Homo sapiens: one gene and its partner. The protein of the gene in region 1 interacts with the protein of each later gene in a biochemical or structural test. Each region holds a gene or a part of one and is shown in the gene's direction. Other genes may lie near its edges.

Region 1 (3,815 bases):
TAAAATGACATGATTTTTCTCCTTAATTTTGACAGCATGGTAAGTTTAGCGATGGCTGTTCTTGCGGAAATCTAGTTTTGCGTTCCTGGAATAACTCAACCCAGTTGTGTTACAATACCCCTGCTTGTCACTGGGCTCATCTGCAGGCGTTTTGAGGAGGTTGGTGTCACTTCCTGTCCCACCTGTCTGTGGGCTGTTGGGGTGGCCTGAGCCACCTGCGGTGCCGTCAGCCCCACATGAGTGGGTGTGTGTTTTTTTTTTAAGTGTGTCATTACTTCTGAAACCTTTGGTAGAATTTGCGGGTGAAGCCCTGGAGTTGCCCTTGTCGCTGTGAGATGGGTATTGGTTTGTGGATGCTTCTTCTGTATCTCTTAACCAGCTTCCAAGATGCCCTCCCCATAGCACAAGTCCATCGTGAAAAATGACCTTGAGGTGGCTCACGCCTGTAATCCCAGCACTTTGGGAGGCTAAGGTGGGCGGATCACCTGAGGTCAGGAGTTCGAGACCAGCCTGGCCAACATGGTGAAACCCTGTCTCTACTAAAAATACAAAAATTAGCCGGACATGGTGGCACGCACCTGTAATCCCAGCTACTTGGGAGGCTGAGGCAGAATCACTTGAACCCGGGAGGCAGAGGTTGCAGTGAGCCAAGATCACGCCACTGCACTTCAGCCTGGGTGACAGAGTGAGACTCCGTCTCAAAAACAAAAAACAAAAAACAAAAAAAAACAAAACAAAAACCACTTTTCCCTTGCCTTGAGGCAATGGCATATAAATCTGCTAGCTAGTTAAACTAGCTACCTAGTAGCAAAGAACACACAGCCTCTTATCATTCTGGGAGGGCAGTGAAAAGGGAGGAGATAGAGAGGCAGCCTGGGGGAGCCCGAGGCGTCAGGATAGCGCAGGGCTTCCTCTTCTCTAACAGGCACGCAGATCAGTAGCTACAGATACCCCTTGGCTCTGGCTTCCTGCCCTGTGACATTTGGACCCAGGGGCCGGGGCTGGGCTGCTGTAGGTGTGCAACCAGGCAGGTTTGGGGGTGTGCAGACACAGAGTGCACTCTAACCCTGAGTGCTTGCCGCACAGGGCCTGGCTGCTAGGGAGCCGTGAGGTAGGGGCTTCCTGGGGAGGGGCCTGTGCCAGGGCTGGGCCGTGGGCATGAGAGCGTGAATGGGGGTCGCTGTGGGGGGCTGTGCACAGCTGTCTCCAGAAGCCCTTCTCCCTGCTGCAGAGAGGGTTTGGGCAGAGCTCCCAGGAGGCAGGGGCCAGGCTTGGTGGTCTTTTCTCGTTCCCCGGATGAGGTGAGCTGCCAGATGTGGCCCCTCACTGCCCTGTCTTTCTCTCCCCTCCAGGCTCTGACCAAGAATGACAGGAGCACAGGTGAGTGTGGTGGGGCGGCCTGGGGCTGTGCGGGTGCCAGGCATGGCTGGGCCCTGACCCTGAGCCCTGGTGTCTCCCCTAGAGGGGAAGGCCCACCGGGAGAAGCTCGAGCTTGCTGCCTCCTTCTCCTTCTTTGGCAACGTCATGTCCATGGCCAGCGTGCAGCTGGCAGGAGCCAAGCGGGATGCCCTGCTCCTAAGCTTCAAGGATGCCAAGGTGAGTGGTAGGCTTGGTGGGGTAGGCCTGGCCAAGGCGTGGGAGTGGGTGCCAGGGCCTGGGTACAGCCGTTGGTTGCCGGGGGCGACACTGTCAGGACCGGCAGTCGGCAGCCACGGCTGTGCCCTCTGACCGCAGCTGTCTGTGGTGGAGTACGACCCGGGCACCCATGACCTGAAGACCCTGTCACTGCACTACTTTGAGGAGCCTGAGCTTCGGGTAGGGCCGCGCTCCCGCCCCCGCCCAGGCCCCGCCCAGCCACCCTCCCTCCCCCTGCAGCTGGGTTCTGTGGCCCCAAGTGTTTCCCTCGGGGTCTCCTATGCTGGGCCTGGCTGATGCCCCCTCTGCCCCCAGGACGGGTTTGTGCAGAATGTACACACGCCGCGAGTGCGGGTGGACCCCGACGGGCGCTGTGCAGCCATGCTTGTCTACGGCACGCGGCTGGTGGTCCTGCCCTTCCGCAGGGAGAGCCTGGCTGAGGAGCACGAGGGGCTCGTGGGTGAGGGGTGAGTGCCAGCTGAGGCAGGCTGTGGTGCTGGGGTGGGAGGCGCCAGAGCCCGAGCTCCCCTCCCCGCCTCCCCTCCTCTCCTGCTGAAGCCCCTGGCCCCCCAGGCAGAGGTCCAGCTTCCTGCCCAGCTACATCATCGACGTGCGGGCCCTAGACGAGAAGCTGCTCAACATCATCGACCTGCAGTTCCTGCATGGCTACTACGAGCCTACCCTCCTCATCCTGTTTGAGCCCAACCAGACCTGGCCTGGGTGAGCCCCCTAAGGAGGCCCCTCTGCACTGTGGGCCCCCTAGCTGCCTCTGCCTGGGGTGGGGCCCATGGGGTTTAGGGCGGGGCCTATGGGGTGTGGTGGGGCTTGCTCGGGAGGAGCTGGGCCTGGGTCTCTGCGGGGAGGCAAGGCCCTTGGCTGACCCACTGGCGTCCCCAGGCGCGTGGCCGTGCGGCAGGACACGTGCTCCATTGTGGCCATCTCACTGAACATCACGCAGAAGGTGCACCCCGTCATCTGGTCCCTCACCAGCCTGCCCTTTGACTGCACCCAGGCTCTGGCTGTGCCCAAGCCCATAGGTGTGTGTCCTGGGAGTGGATAGGGGAGTGTGTGGAGAGAGCACTGAGCCTGCCCACCAGCCTGTGTCCACCTCCAGGTGGGGTGGTGGTGTTTGCCGTCAACTCGCTGTTGTACCTGAACCAGAGCGTCCCCCCGTATGGCGTGGCTCTCAACAGCCTCACCACAGGAACCACGGCTTTCCCGCTTCGTGAGTGTGGGGTGGCTGGGGCGGGGGGGGCCCGGGGACGGCTTGGGCCTGCCTAGTCGGCCTGACCACCCACCCCACAGGCACCCAGGAGGGTGTGCGGATCACCCTGGACTGCGCCCAGGCCACCTTCATCTCCTACGACAAGATGGTCATCTCCCTCAAGGGCGGCGAGATGTGAGCCCCTCCCCCGCCCATGAACTCTGCCCACACCGCCCCCCACAAGTCCTGTAGGGTCCCCTGGCCCCCTTCACTCCCCCAGGGTCCCCATCCCCGACTCAGAATTCTCCCTGCCCCCAGCTACGTGCTGACCCTCATCACCGACGGCATGCGCAGTGTCCGAGCGTTCCACTTTGACAAGGCGGCCGCCAGCGTCCTCACCACCAGCGTGAGTTGGGACTAGGGGTTGGGTCTGGGTCCAGACCCGGCCCAGCCATCACACACCTGCCCTCCCTCAGATGGTCACCATGGAGCCCGGGTACCTGTTCCTGGGTTCTCGCCTGGGCAATTCCCTCCTCCTCAAGTACACGGAGAAGCTGCAGGAGCCCCCGGCCAGTGCTGTCCGTGAGGCTGCCGACAAGGTGGGTTTCCTGGGCCCATTGGGCCACCACCCTTCATGTGGGCACTGCTGTGGCATGCCACTCAGTGCCCCTCCTGCCTCACAGGAAGAGCCTCCCTCAAAGAAGAAGCGAGTGGATGCGACGGCCGGCTGGTCAGGTGAGGGCCGGTCCAGGGCTGGTCAGGAGCGGGGCCAGGTGACCCAGGGCTGCGCTCAAGTGGGCTCTCTGTGTGCAGCTGCGGGTAAGTCGGTGCCGCAGGATGAGGTGGACGAGATTGAAGTGTACGGCAGCGAGGCCCAGTCGGGAACACAGCTGGCCACCTACTCCTTTGAGGTGAGATTGAGGCAGCAGGGCCCCCGTCCCAGCCAGCGCCCCCAGCGGGCCCCTGACTCTTGCTG
Region 2 (3,815 bases), on another chromosome or scaffold:
AAATTATTGAAGATGAGCTTTCTTTTTTTTCTACCAGGATATGAATAATGCCAAATTATTTAGTGATGAAGCTGCTAATATATATGAAAGAGCCATAAGCACTTTATTGAAGAAGAATATGCTTCTTTATTTTGCATATGCAGATTATGAAGAGGTAAGTAAAAATGTTTAGAGCCTTCTTATAATTCAATTTTTTAGTGCAGGACTGAACTTTTTTTCTGGCTGCTTGTTTGCCAGGCATATTGCTTTTGGTAGACAGAGATGATGCCAAATGAACAGTTATTAGTTGTCAGCTTATACTATATTTATGCTCAATGGAGATGCCATTGGGGGTGGGAGGTTATAGCCTTTGGATTCCTTGGAGCTCAAATCCTGCTTATTTATGACCATATGTTGATACTCACTTCTTCTGTACCACCTTAGAGTCGCATGAAGTATGAAAAGGTTCACAGTATATATAACAGACTTCTGGCAATTGAGGATATTGACCCTACCTTGGTGAGTAACTTTACAAATCTTTTTTTCCACCTTTACAGTCTTATCTAACAAAAAATAATTTAAATTTATATACAATAAAATTCACTGTTTTTGTTGTATAGTTCTATTAATCTTGACAAATAACATTGAGTATGGGATCCCCACCACAATTAAGATAGAAAACACCTCCACCATCCTCCAAAAATTCCCCCATGTGACCCCTTTGTAGATATAACCCTTCCCTCTGCCCTTACCTCTGACAATTACTGATCTGTTTTCTGCTAGAATTTTTTCTTTTTAATGCAGCAGTATAAAATAGATACAGAGGCACTTTCTCTAACACTTTCTTTGTGATCATGGTTTGAAGTCACTTTATGCCACAGAATTGTTGCTTAATAGATATTTCTTTTTAAATGAGGCGGGAGAAACCGACATCCTGGGAAGAAATTAGACTGAAACTCACTTTATGCTAAATCCTGCTCTATCATAGTGGTTTTCAAAGCCCCAAGTGCAAAAGTGCAGTGATGCTCTCCCATTGGGAGAGGAAGGGGACAGGCTTGTGGGTGTGTCTCTAGAACCTCTGCCTCAAGTCAATTATAGCTACACTACTTTTTCTTGTTAATGATTTATATTGGGATTCCACTGCTATAATTCCTACATTTATTCATCATCTTATAATTCATTCCACAAACATATCTGGCAAATATATTGCTAGAGTCTATGCATTGTGCTAGACTCCAGCAACATTAATGACAAACTAGATGAAATTCCTTTTCTTGAGGAACTCATAGTCCATCCATCCATCCATCAAAACTGGGTAATATAGCTAGACATTATCAATACTGGGCAAACCAGGACCCTACTAATTAGTCATTTGTTCACTAAACAAAACTGCATACTCATGATGTACTGGACACTCTGTAGGTGCTAGGTATAAAATGGCTCATAGTTTATCCATGAAGTTCTATTATATGTTGTTCGGAAAATAGAGTAGTGGGCTTTTAAAAAGAAACCAAGAAAATGTGAAGTTAAACATGTATTGCAGGCTGGGCGCGGTAGCTCACACCTGTAATCCCAGCACTTTGGGAGGTCGAGGCAGGCAGATCACGAGGTCAGGAGATTGAGACCAGCCTGGCTAAAATGGTGAAACCCCATCTCTACTAAAAAACAAAAATTAGCCGGGTGTGGTGGCGTGTGCCTGTAGTCCCAGCTACTTGGGAGCCTGAGGCAGGAGAATGGCTTGACCCCAGGAGACAGAGGTTGCAGTGAGCCAAGATCGCACCACTGCACTCCAGCCTGGGCAACAGAGCGAGACTCCGTCTCAAAAAAAAAAACATGTATTGTAAGACGTGCTTGTATTAAACCAACCCTTGAGTTTTTTAGATATTGACATTCATTAATGGAGTATGTTCTAGTAGTGTCACACTTTTCACTCTTAAACTTTAATTTACATATTCTAGAATTAGATAATGGTGATGATTGCACAACCTTGTGAATATATTTAAAACCACTGAATTGTAAAGGGTGAATTTTGTGCTATGTGAATTATGTCTCAATAAAAAAATAAATTAATTTGCATGCATCTCTAATACCAGAAAAAAATTAGTTTGTGGATTTAAATAGAATATTATCTAAATTCCTACTTTCTAATTTATTGGGTATTGAGGATTGCTTTCTTATGCAGGAAACATACTGTCTAATTTATAGAACACAAATACTTTCTTTTGCATAGGTATATATCCAATATATGAAATTTGCACGGAGAGCAGAAGGCATCAAATCTGGAAGAATGATATTTAAAAAAGCAAGAGAAGATACCAGAACCCGCCACCATGTCTATGTTACTGCAGCACTCATGGAATATTACTGTAGTAAGGTAAATACTGAAATACAAGTGTAAAGATAAAACAACTTCCTTCATCTGAGGTTCGTAAAAGAAAGGTGATTTTAGCTTCTGTCATTAAGCTTTTATTGCTCCATTTTGTAAAGGCAGTCTAAGTGTATCTGTGTAAAATTTTATGGAGCATCATCCAAATCCCCAACTACTTGCTAATTTATGCTTCATTAATCACTATATTTCTAATTTGTGCTTTATTAATCACTATATTAATCACTATTTCGTGATTTCTAATCACTAAACTCCTTTGAATAGTTTCTAGCTCAGCAATTTTTACTTAACATGATTTTAATTTGTTTTAATTCTTACATATTTTGTCATATGTAGGTATAATTTTAATATTCTTTCAAGTGTTTTTTATCTGACATTTCATGGAAATCTGTACTTTACTTTCTTTACTTGTAGGACAAATCTGTTGCCTTTAAGATTTTTGAGCTGGGGCTAAAAAAATATGGAGACATTCCAGAGTATGTCCTGGCCTATATTGACTATCTTTCTCACCTCAATGGTAGGTTGATTCTAGAATCTATAATGATTACTTAATATTAAACCATGTGGAATTATGTTGCTAGATTTCTTCCTTCTTGAATGTATTATAATTTTGACATAGCAGACAGGCACTTGTTAGGCACTCAAGAAATACTTGTGGTATATCAACCATGAATATATTTACTGAGCAATGGTAGATGTTTTTTGACTCTGCAGAACTGTCTTTATTCAGTAAAGTACCATCAGTAGTGGGATAAAGCTTCAGAGTCAGAGTCAGGAGACACAGAGTTGTTTATATTCATCTCTGATGACTCTGGGCAGATCATCTCCTGTTTCCTGGAAGGAAAACAAACAAACAAAAAACCCTCTAGCCACCAAAACTCAAACTCAAAAGATGCCCAAATAGTAAAGTAAAACACTTTGAGGATACTGGGGAAAAGATTCAAAAAGAAACATTTTGGTTTTTAGTATTTATTTATTTATTTATTTATTTATTTATTTATTTGAGACAGAGTCTCGCTGTCGCCCAGGCTGGAGTGCAGTGGCGCAATCTCGGCTCACTGCAGGCTCCGCCCCCTGGGGTTCACGCCATTCTCCTGCCTCAGCCTCCGGAGTAGCTGGGACTACAGGCGCCCGCCACCTCGCCCGGCTAATTTTTTGTATTTTTAGTAGAGACAGGGTTTCACCGTGTTAGCCAGGATGGTCTCGATCTCCTGACCTCGTGATCCGCCCGCCTCGGCCTCCCAAAGTGCTGGGATTACAGGCGTGAGCCACCGCGCCCGGCCGGTTTTTAGTATTTATTTCCCTATTCTGTTGTACGAATAACACTGGCCATCCTTTATTGAGTTCCTACCAGGCACTGTGCTAGATAATTCATATATGTATATCATTTAGTCTAGTTAACAACAGTGCACAATATGTAATTTCTTAACAAAAAAAGATGTAGTATAAA

The links.
Region 2: the proteins of CPSF1 (region 1) and CSTF3 form a complex in vitro, tested with the Homo sapiens proteins (one study listed by BioGRID).

Annotation. Positions count from the first base shown.
Region 1 is NC_000008.11:144,399,211-144,403,025, reverse strand, and holds part of CPSF1 (cleavage and polyadenylation specificity factor subunit 1), read left to right. Parts: intron 1-35; exon of another isoform or gene 36-159; intron 160-911; exon of another isoform or gene 912-1,111; intron 1,112-1,352; coding exon 1,353-1,380; intron 1,381-1,462; coding exon 1,463-1,596; intron 1,597-1,734; coding exon 1,735-1,815; intron 1,816-1,950; coding exon 1,951-2,102; intron 2,103-2,208; coding exon 2,209-2,355; intron 2,356-2,532; coding exon 2,533-2,672; intron 2,673-2,680; exon of another isoform or gene 2,681-2,749; coding exon 2,750-2,860; exon of another isoform or gene 2,861-2,940; coding exon 2,941-3,034; intron 3,035-3,157; coding exon 3,158-3,245; intron 3,246-3,315; coding exon 3,316-3,438; intron 3,439-3,522; coding exon 3,523-3,574; intron 3,575-3,652; coding exon 3,653-3,750; intron 3,751-3,815. UniProt on the Homo sapiens protein: Component of the cleavage and polyadenylation specificity factor (CPSF) complex that plays a key role in pre-mRNA 3'-end formation, recognizing the AAUAAA signal sequence and interacting with poly(A) polymerase and other factors to bring about cleavage and poly(A) addition.
Region 2 is NC_000011.10:33,095,373-33,099,187, reverse strand, and holds part of CSTF3 (cleavage stimulation factor subunit 3), read left to right. Parts: intron 1-37; coding exon 38-154; intron 155-423; coding exon 424-498; intron 499-2,209; coding exon 2,210-2,353; intron 2,354-2,779; coding exon 2,780-2,882; intron 2,883-3,815. UniProt on the Homo sapiens protein: One of the multiple factors required for polyadenylation and 3'-end cleavage of mammalian pre-mRNAs.